Linked DNA regions of Homo sapiens. The protein of the gene in region 1 purifies or fractionates together with the protein of each later gene. This does not show direct contact. Each region holds a gene or a part of one and is shown in the gene's direction. Other genes may lie near its edges. The genes, in order: DOT1L, ACIN1 and MPRIP.

Region 1 (3,650 bases):
TAGTTCTGCCATTCTCAGAAAGTTGGCTGAATGGAATCAACAGCATGTTGCCCTTTGGTCCTGGTGGCTTTCAGGCGGCCAAATCCGTGTTGCTGCAGGTTTCAAAAGTTACCCCATTTTTTTGCTGACTGTAAATCCATTGGACAGTTGGGCCACAGATTGTTGACGTGTTTGCCTGTGGGTCACAGGACTGTGGGCTGTTTCCAATTTTTGGTGATTAGAATAAACCCGCACTAAACACCACTGGCGGGATTTTTGGTGAAAGTCAGTGTTCGCGTGGCGAGGTTCTCAGGGGTGGACCGCACGGCCTGTGCTAAGCGTCTGTTTAACATCTGCATCCCAACAGTTGCCACTTGTCAGTGCTAAGAAACCCACTGGAACCCAGCGTCGGGGCCTGGGGTAGTGGTCTTGCCAGGGACCCTTTGCCTTTTCCTTGGTACTGAAGTGAACATTCACGTGAAGGCAGCCCTGGTGTCCCCGCCCGCATGCCTGCTGCCCTGCCTGGCCAGTGCTCCATTGTAAATAGTAAGGGCGAGAGCTGGCGGGAGCGGGCTTTCTAGTGGTGGGCGGGACTGTGCCGTGTCTTTCCCTCCCTGGCCAGGCCCTGGCTTGGCAGGGTGTGCTGGTCCTGGCGCCGTCTACGGCCTCTTCCTGCTCTGGTTGGCCCACTGCCGGGCCCAGCATCTTCATTCGCCCAAGTGCCAGAGGCAGCCTTCTGACAACCTCGCCGTGACATTTGTCATTTTCTGTGTTCCCGTTGAGGAATTTTGCTTTCTCACAAGAAGTGAGGGGTGGTTCTGATTTTCTTTTCTTTTCTTTTTTTTTTTTTTTTTTTGAGACAGAGTCTTGCTCTATCGCCCAGGCTGGAGTGCAGTGGCACAATCTCCACTCACTGCAAGCTCCGCCTCCCAGGTTTCAGTGATTCTCCTGCCTCAGCCTCCCCAGTAGCTGGGATTACAGACCTGTGCCACCATGCCTGGCTTATTTTGTATTTTTAGTAGAGACAGGGTTTCACCATATTGGCCAGGCTGGTCTCAAACTCCTGACCTCAGGTGATCCGTCCACCTCGGCCTCCCAGAGTGCTGGGATGACAGGCGTGAACCACCGTGCCCAGACGCAGCTGCAGCAGCACATTTATTCATGATTCATTCCAACAGCAGCTACTGAATACTCAGTGTTGTGGGGGCACAGAGGACAACAAGCCAATATTCTCCCCCCGCCACCGCCCCAGCATTCTTAGTCTCAAGAAACCTGTCAAATGAAGACAGGCCGGGCACAGGGGCTCATGCCTGTAGTCCCTGCACTTTGGGAAGCCCAGGCGGGAGGATTGCTTGAGCCCAGGAGTTTGAGACAAGCCAGGGCAACATAGGGAGACTCCATCTCTACCAAAAAATTTAAAACAGTGAAGTTAAGTAGATTATAAATAGAAGTTCAGCAGAGATACTGTGCTGAGTACAAGGTCAGCTGAGGTCCCCAGGGAGGGGCTGCCACTTCTGCCCTGGGGGACCTGTGGGTGGCTGCTTGGAGGAGGGGCCATCCGGAGGAGGAAGCAGAAATAGCCACAACTGTCCACGCTCGGAAATGAGCAGTTCGGAAGGGGTTTGCCCAATTGGCAAACGCAAGGGGGAGGAAGGGAGATTTTTATTCTTACATGACCTGGGAGTTCCTGGATAACCGCTTTTCTCAAGCCCCGCATGGCATTTCTTATTTTTTTGAGAGGGAATCTCGTACTGTTGCCTGGGCTGGAGTACAACGGTGTGATCTCGGTTCACTGCAACATCTGCCTCCTGGGTTCAAGTGATTCTCCTGTCTCAGCCTCCCCAGTAGGTGGGACTACAGGCACCCGCCACCACGCCCAGCTAATTTTTTGTATTTTTAGTAGCGACAGGTTTTCACTATGTTGGCCAGGCTGGTCTCGAACTCCTGACCTTGTCATCTACCTGCCTGGGCCTCCCAGAGTGCTAGGATTACAGGCATGAGCCACCGTGCCTGGCCCTGCGTGGTATTTCTAGGGCAGGATGGCCCTGCCCTTCTTCTAGTGGGAAGGGCACAAGTGGCATTATTGGTTGTTTGCTCGGAAAGAACCTTCAAAGGCCACAGAACGGGACCTTCCCCCTGGTGACTCACAGGCTGTGGGCGGGCAGGGGCGGCCTCCACTGGCCAAGGGTCCGGACTCTCTGACTCTCATTAATGAGTGAGTACATGTTCCGCCTGACAGCCTGGCCTGGAGCCCGGCTGTGGGCGGCGGTGAGTGGGCAGCCAGCAGTGAGTAGCAGCCGGGGCGGGGTGAGCTGTCCCCACCGTGACTCAGAAGGTATTTTCTGCTGCTGACCTCTGAGCTTGAGTGTCCTGAGTAATCCCAGCTCCCCCGGAGGCAGATTAACCTTTAGGCAGCTTTGTGTGAGTAAAGGAGTCGCTTTAAATAGGAAGGAATAATAGAAAAAACCCAAGTGTTCCGTTTTATAGCAAATGCACACTGCTTTGTTCCTGCTGGCCTGAAAGAGGTTGCAGGGGGTACTGGGGCGGGGAATTGTCCAGAAACTCTGCAGATGATACAGGGACACTCCAGCCTAGCCTCTGAGGAGAGTTTTTTTTGAGACGGACTCGCTCTGTCTCCCAGGCTGGAGTGCAGTGGCCCAATCTCGGCTCACTGCAGCCTCCGCCTCCTGGGTTCAAGTGATTCTCCTGCCTCAGCCTCCCGAGTAGCTGGGATTACAGGTGTGAGCCACCACGCCCAGCTCTTTTTTTCCTTTAAAAATCTGCTTGTTATCTGCTGCTCATCAGAGTGTATATTTGGGGTAATTCGAGCCTGTGCTCCCAGGTTGCAGTCCTCAAATGTGGCCCAAATAAATGCTCCACTTATATTAATTTTGCTCCAGTTCCTTTCCTTTAGCTCGACAGTGTGAATCTACAATTATCTTAAAATAAAAAGTTTAATTAAAAAAAACACACGGTTGCCCAGGCACGGTGGCTCATGCCTGTAATCCCGGCACTTTGGGAGGCCAAGGCGGGCAGATCACCTGCGGTCAGGAGTTCGAGACCAGCTTGGCCAACATGACGAAACCCCGTATTTACCAAAAATACAAAAATTAGCTGGGCGTGGTGGCGGTTGCCTATAATCCGGAGAATTGCTTGAACCCGAGAGGGGGAGGCTGCAGTGAGCTGAGATCATGCCATTACACTCCAGACTGGTCGACAGAGTGAGACTCTGTCTCAAACAAACAGACAAAATTAGATAAAGGAAAAAAGAATTTTTGTTCAAGTAATATTGGCCATTGATGGCTGCAAATCACTCTTGGTGTTACAGATTCCAGGAACAGGAAGATAGTGTCCGAGACCAGGATGCAGGAACAGATAGATGCCTTTCCACGCTTGCCCCTGGTGTGGTTGGGAGGCGTGACTGAAATCCTTGCTCTTGTCTCTCTGGACCTGATGCATTTTGCATGCCTCACTGGGCACGGACTGCTTGGAGCTGTTTTTATCTTCCAGCAGTGTGAGGTGTAGGAAGGACCCAACACGGTTCCTCCTGTGCTCTCCGCAGTCAACACAGAGGAGTTGCGGAACCAGATACGGGTACCCGGGGATTCATCAGTTCTGTGTTTCCTACTGGGCAGCCCCGATTCAACTCACTTCCAGCATGTCTACCTCGA
Region 2 (3,186 bases), on another chromosome or scaffold:
TAACGGGGTGGGGGGTATCTGTGTCCCAGAGCCTCATCCCCGACATCAAACCCCTGGCGGGGCAGGAGGCTGTTGTGGATCTTCATGCTGATGACTCTCGCATCTCTGAGGATGAGACAGAGCGTAATGGCGATGATGGGACCCATGACAAGGGGCTGAAAATATGCCGGACAGTCACTCAGGTAAGGCTTCTGCACCCCAGTGTCAGGGGAAAGGTGGGAGCAGTAGATGCAGAGCAGCTAGCTGAGGAGCTGAGATAAAGTCTTTGGAGGGAACTTCCCTGTCTGTGCAGAGGGTTGGGTTGACTGACACTTTCAGGGGTCAGACTACCAAATCCAGCTGGCTACCTGTTACAAATAAAGTTTGATTGGAACACAACCACACGAGTTCATTCACTTTTGTCTGTGGCTGTTTGTTCACTACAACATCACCAGAGTTGAGTAGTTGCAACAAACTATGTGGCCTGCAAAACCTGAAGTACTGCTTTGCTCTACAGAAAAAATTTACTAACTCCTGTCTTAGTTTTCCTCAAGGCAAAGTTGAGGCACTAACAATCCCAGGATCTGGTAGAAGTGAGCCGATAACGAAATACCCCTAGCGGAAGGAACATGCTAGATTGACTGCTACTCTTACCGGGGAACCAGAGGCTGAAAAGAATATGCCAGTTTGGTGTTTAACAGACCTGCTGTGTTCTCTGACACCTTGATAGGTAGTACCTGCAGAGGGCCAGGAGAATGGGCAGAGGGAAGAAGAGGAAGAAGAGAAGGAACCTGAAGCAGAACCTCCTGTACCTCCCCAGGTGTCAGTAGAGGTGGCCTTGCCCCCACCTGCAGAGCATGAAGTAAAGAAAGGTGAGTGACATATTGTGAGAGAAATGTAATGCGGCTCCCTGAATTCTCAGAGCACCTCATTTGGATCGCTGAAAGCTTTGAATGTTTCCTGCCTTTCATTATATTTTTTCGTATATCATATCTTTCTCCTACATATTAAGTAAGCTACTTGAGGGCCAGATTTGACTCTGTTTAATCTTTGAATCTCCATGATGAGGAGGTTAGCCTAGCACAGTACTTTGCAGATTATAGGTGCTCTGCACGTTTAGATTAAGGAGTGGCTGCTTGGTATAAAAGAAAGGGAACCGTGAGAGTTACATTGAGGGTGAAAAGAGCCAGTATTGCTTCCTACCAAAAGCTGTTCTTGTGGTCTTCTTGATAGTGACTTTAGGAGATACCTTAACTCGACGTTCCATTAGCCAGCAGAAGTCCGGAGTTTCCATTACCATTGATGACCCAGTCCGAACTGCCCAGGTGCCCTCCCCACCCCGGGGCAAGATTAGCAACATTGTCCATATCTCCAATTTGGTAAGTCATTGTTTCTCACCATCCCAGCTTGCTTAGTGGTTAAGTTTGAGCTTTAGGCTTATGCCTCCTAGGTTCCACTCATAGTTGAACTGGTCTACCAATAGATTAAGTTACTCACTGATCTTGAGTGAGTTACTTAACATATTTACCCATCTAAAAATGAGGGGGAAAAGCTGTTGCCCTGCAGGGTTGTTTTGAGGACTTGCAGAAGGCCTCACATACAACGTCTCAATTAGTGCTGGGAAGCACCACCACTCTTCTCACATTCTTACTGCAAGGTTCCTAAACTCTCTGCCCTCCCCCAAACCTTGAAACTATACTCCTGTGACAGCAGCTCGGGAAATCTAAAGATTGGGTGGTGGTCTTGCCTTCTGCTAGACCCTGAAAGTCTATTTTCATTGGCAGGTCCGTCCTTTCACTTTAGGCCAGCTAAAGGAGTTGTTGGGGCGCACAGGAACCTTGGTGGAAGAGGCCTTCTGGATTGACAAGATCAAATCTCATTGCTTTGTAACGGTGAGGGGAAGAAGCTGATTCTATAGGTCATGGCATATATTTCCTTTTGTGACCAGTGTGGGCAGGTTTAAGGGTGTTGCAGCACGTGGGAAGGGTTGCAGACACACTGTGACCCTCCATCTTCTCCCTTCCTCCACCAGTACTCAACAGTAGAGGAAGCTGTTGCCACCCGCACAGCTCTGCACGGGGTCAAATGGCCCCAGTCCAATCCCAAATTCCTTTGTGCTGACTATGCCGAGCAAGATGAGGTAAGAAACCTAGGGAGAGGAAAGAGAGGAGGGGCAGGGGAAGCCATTATCTGCTAGATTTCAGCTGAGATCCTTGCCAGACCTGCAGTCTCTGAGCTTCTGTTCTTTTCTCTTCTTCCCTGGCTTTGGTTCCTTTAATTGTACCATGGGGCTTCAAAGTGGTACCTGGGCTCCTTTTTTTTTTTTTTTTTTTTTTGAGACAGAGTCTCGCTGTCTCCCAGGCTGGAGTGCAGTGGCGCGATCTCAGCTCACTGCAAGCTCCGCCTTCCGGGTTCACGCCATTCTCCTGCCTCAGCCTCCCGAATAGCTGGGACTACAGGCGCCCGCCACCACGCCCGGCTAATTTTTTTGTATTTTCAGTAGAGACGGGGTTTCACCGTGTCAGCCAGGATGGTCTCGGTCTCCTGACCTCGTGATCTGACCGCCTTGGCCTCCCAAAGTGCTGGGATTACAGGCGTGAGCCACCGCGCCCGGCCATCCTGGCTCCTTGAGTGGGAGTGATATCACCTCTATCCTAACTGTCCTTGTCCCTCCTCTCCCCACAGCTGGATTATCACCGAGGCCTCTTGGTGGACCGTCCCTCTGAAACTAAGACAGAGGAGCAGGGAATACCACGGCCCCTGCACCCCCCACCCCCACCCCCGGTCCAGCCACCACAGCACCCCCGGGCAGAGCAGCGGGAGCAGGAACGGGCAGTGCGGGAACAGTGGGCAGAACGGGAACGGGAAATGGAGCGGCGGGAGCGGACTCGATCAGAGCGTGAATGGGATCGGGACAAAGTTCGAGAAGGGCCCCGTTCCCGATCAAGGTCCCGTGACCGCCGCCGCAAGGAACGTGCGAAGTCTAAAGAAAAGAAGAGTGAGAAGAAAGGTAGGTACTTAGCTATGGGGTACGCATACCCACTAGTAGGTGGGAAAGGGACCCAGATGGGATGGGACAGAGGGTCAGATGCATCATATCTGGTTCACTTTTTTCCACCTCAGAGAAAGCCCAGGAGGAACCACCTGCCAAGCTGCTGGATGACCTTTTCCGAAAGACCAAGGCAGCTCCCTGCATCTATTGGCTCC
Region 3 (3,650 bases), on another chromosome or scaffold:
CATGCGGGAGGAGCTGGGACACAAGGACCTGGAGGGCGACGCGGCCACACTGCGTGAGAAGTACCAGAGGGACTTGGAGAGCCTTAAGGTCTTAACGCCCCATTCAATTTGCAGAGCAGATCTTCCTTGATAATGGGGTGGGTGTGGGGACGTCTGGCTCAGCTACCGTGCAGGCAGAATTGAGGGGATATGCTGCTGTCCCTCTACTTGCTAGCCATGGTGTGGTCTCAGCAGGGCCTGGGCCGCAGGCTTAGCCTCTTGTTCGGCATCCCCCAGTGTCCTCCACCAGGAGGAGAACTAGCAGGAGGGCCGCCAGGGTCCCTGGTGGGAGAGGAGCACGTAGTCTTCCCAGCACTTCCCTGCCTGCCTAATGCGGCCTCTCCGTGTTCCTGAGAGCAGCCCCCAATCCCCTTGCCAGCCTTGCCTCCTTCCTGCCCCTGCCCCGGGAACCCCGTCTGGCCCAGTCCCAGCCCAAATCTGAGGCAGCTGCCTGAGGACAGCCTTGTACTCACAGCAACACCCCGGAGAGCCAGGGCCCAGTTGGAGGGCAGTCTCCTCCTGATTGCCCTAGGAGAGCACAGTCGGGCGGAGGGTCCCTCTCTGGAACTGGCATTTGATGTGTGCTCTGGTGAGAAGAACTTTCCCACGGAGCACAGCCTCCAGCCACTCCTGTCCCCTTCCCCAGGACCTTTACAAGTAGATTTTCCCCAGAACTGTCCTGCATCCCCGCCCCTGAGGTCCTGGAGCACAAAGGCGAAATGCCAGGCCCTGGAGGTGGTGGTGGGCTGAGTGGAGGCCCAGCTGTCTGGCCCCACCCTTTGTAGCTGCAGGCCACACCCACCATGTGTGGCTGTCAAGCATCATCCCTTAGACTCAAAAGTTTACCATGATACCTGTGCCCTTATGTTCCTTCCACTCAGGAAGCTGCCCCAGTAAATGACTAGGATGACTAGGCCCCTCAAAAGCCATGTTCAGGTGGTGCCTTCCACGCTCATGTGGCAGAGCCAGGCGCGCACACAGCCAGCACCATTGTGCTGCAAGCTCCTGACTCCCAGGTGGCTGCCACTGCTCCTGCCTACACATCCTCACAGCCACTGTCTAGCAGGACACCTGTTTTTCCCAGCCCGTTACTCCTGTAGCTCTGAATGGAAACAGCAGCTCACATGTCACCTCTGTGTGACGGACTCGGCCCCACCCAGACACACAGGTGTGGTTGTCAGCGAGCACCTCAGGAGAACTGAGAAGCTCTTTTTCACCATTCTTTCCCCAAATCAGTCAAAACCTTTTAAAAACCATTATGAGTTGTGAGAAGGTTTCAACAGCTATGTTTTCAAAGTGTGTGTATATGATGGCACTGTGGTCAGTTCACCAAGAGCAGCACTGAGATGGGTGGATCCAGGTGCACCTTGAAAAGTTAATTGCACAAACCTTTGCTTTGACCCCAAATACGCTTGCTAGTGCCCTTCCCTGCAGCTTCCCAGACAATCAGCAGGGTCCATGGGGGCAGGGCCTGGGCACAGCAATGCCCTGCTTCCTGTCTGCATCCATAAGAGGCCCCTCCACACCGAGGCTGCTTTAGGTTAGCCAACCAGGTGCAGGGGAGGCCCCATGCAGGTGCCATTATACCAACAGTGAGCAAGAAATCAGAAAAAAGAGGACTGCCTTATGTTGAGAACTGACCAGAGATTGTGCTGGGCCAGTGTCACTAGGAGGGAGAAACAGATGATGCAGGTCGGGATGAGGCCCCTCCCAGGGGCTTGGACACTGTCCACTCCCTGCTGCCTTAGCTGCCGTTGCATAGTGTCCCCTCCTGTGCCTGGGAGCTTCTAGCCCAGGTGTGGTGTTCTCACCCACCCCTGCAGACTTACAGAACTTGTAAATAGACAGCACCTTGAGATTTCATCACTTTATGCAGATTTCCACTTGGGTCGTTGGGGACAGGGTCTTGGCCTAACAGCCGTCCTCTGACATCCACAGGCTCCCACCACACCACGATTGCAGTCATCGGGGAACTTCTTTTGGTGTCAGGAATGATTGGCTTAAATTAACATTTGTTTGCAAGATCAATTATTTTTTAGCATATAGTTTCTCTCCAAAGAAGCAACTAGGTCTTTAAAGATGTCCCAGTGCTTCTGTTAGATTTTTGACTCTTACCTGCATAATATTCCAAAGCACTCAGATCAAAATAAGACTTTTCCCAGCAAGTAGACTCAAAGAAAAAAAAAAAAGACTTAAAAGATCTATTAATACTAGTTGTGCTCGTTTTAGCAGCATATATACTAAAATTGGAATGATACAGAGAAGATTAGTATGGCCCCTTTACAAGGATGACACACAAATTCATGAAGTATTCCATATATATATATATTTTTTTTTTTTTTAATTAAAAAAGACCTATTAGTTAAATGTGTTAACTGAGAAGCCACATACAAACAGAAGCGAGTGGGAGGAAGAAAGAAGAGCTCAACCTTGGGGCCTGAGGACCAGGAGCTCCAGAGCTCCGAGCTCCTGCAGCCGTCCTGAGGTGTGAGGGTGGCAGAAAGAGACAGATGCTTCCAGGTGGAGCCGCTGGGAGAGGGGATGGGACGCCTAGTTAATAGTGGCAATAGCTGAGACATTCACCCAGAGCAGCACATAGGTTGCAGTCAAGTCCAGACTGACCACGAGTTTGGAAATACTGCCTGAGGCTCTCAGAGTTGGCCATCACCAAAAGTGGGCCCAGAGAAAAATGCCCAGGCATGCTGATAGGATTTCTTGGTATCCTTTCTTGAATCCACATGCAAGAAGATTAACCAAGTGGTGCAGGCTATCAGCCCAGAGTGGGGAAACCCCCACACTTGAATTTGGAATGGAATGTGGCCACGTTCTTCCAGTTTTTAAAACTCAGCGAGAGGCCCAGTCCCTTCTCTGAAGCAGACCACTTGAAGGATTTAGACAGAAAGTGTGTGCCTCCGTGCTCAAAATAGCTGCACACCCACCCTTCCCGGCAGCTGTGCAGCACGCTCACCTGCTTTGTTAGTGAGCACAGCTCTGATAACCAGGCCTGGGCTTCCTGGTGTGGCTTGCTCCCATCCTGGGGCATGCCTATGTCGCTCTAGGGAGGCACAGGAGAGTTTGGAAAGCAGGTCTCCTGTCATGTACTTGTTAGAGTTAGCAGAGGTGCTAAGTCATTGGTGCCCTTCTTTAAGAAAAGAGTAAGAAAGAAGACACAGGCTAGAAGGAAGGGGAGCCTGTAGCCTGATCTTACTCCCTCAGTCAACACCTGAGCATTAAGTGACCAGCTGGAGGTTGTCAGCTGGCTAGTGGCAGAGTCCCAACCCCCAGCTCCCAGAAGTGGACTCTATGTACCCCCAACCCACTGTGGGTTGAGAGGCTCCCAGCCCGGTGCCCGCCAGGCCACTCCCTATATGTGGAATGGCCTTGGTTCCCTCCAGCAGACAAGTCCCTCATCCCTGTTTTACGGGCCTTTCACCGTGTCCCTCCAGACCAGACACAGCCAGCCTCTGCCCACGTGCTCTCTCTTCCTTCCTGTGGGTCCCACCTGGCAGCAACGCAGGAAGGTCCAGGGTTGGCTGGTTTCCATTTCATAGCAGCCTGTCCCCACCTACCATACCAACTTCTCCCAGGAAGAAATGGGGCACAGTACAGTC

Evidence for each region.
Region 2: the proteins of DOT1L (region 1) and ACIN1 purify together in Homo sapiens (affinity purification with mass spectrometry, with the first as the bait; one study listed by BioGRID). This does not show direct contact.
Region 3: the proteins of DOT1L (region 1) and MPRIP purify together in Homo sapiens (affinity purification with mass spectrometry, with the first as the bait; one study listed by BioGRID). This does not show direct contact.

What each region holds. Positions count from the first base shown.
Region 1 is NC_000019.10:2,166,919-2,170,568, forward strand, and holds part of DOT1L (histone-lysine N-methyltransferase, H3 lysine-79 specific), read left to right. Parts: intron 1-3,650. UniProt on the Homo sapiens protein: Histone methyltransferase. Methylates 'Lys-79' of histone H3. Nucleosomes are preferred as substrate compared to free histones. Binds to DNA.
Region 2 is NC_000014.9:23,061,101-23,064,286, reverse strand, and holds part of ACIN1 (apoptotic chromatin condensation inducer in the nucleus), read left to right. Parts: intron 1-29; coding exon 30-182; intron 183-709; coding exon 710-851; intron 852-1,212; coding exon 1,213-1,358; intron 1,359-1,763; coding exon 1,764-1,871; intron 1,872-2,011; coding exon 2,012-2,119; intron 2,120-2,664; coding exon 2,665-2,989; intron 2,990-3,102; coding exon 3,103-3,186.
Region 3 is NC_000017.11:17,167,828-17,171,477, forward strand, and holds part of MPRIP (myosin phosphatase Rho-interacting protein), read left to right. Parts: coding exon 1-88; intron 89-3,650. UniProt on the Homo sapiens protein: Targets myosin phosphatase to the actin cytoskeleton. Required for the regulation of the actin cytoskeleton by RhoA and ROCK1.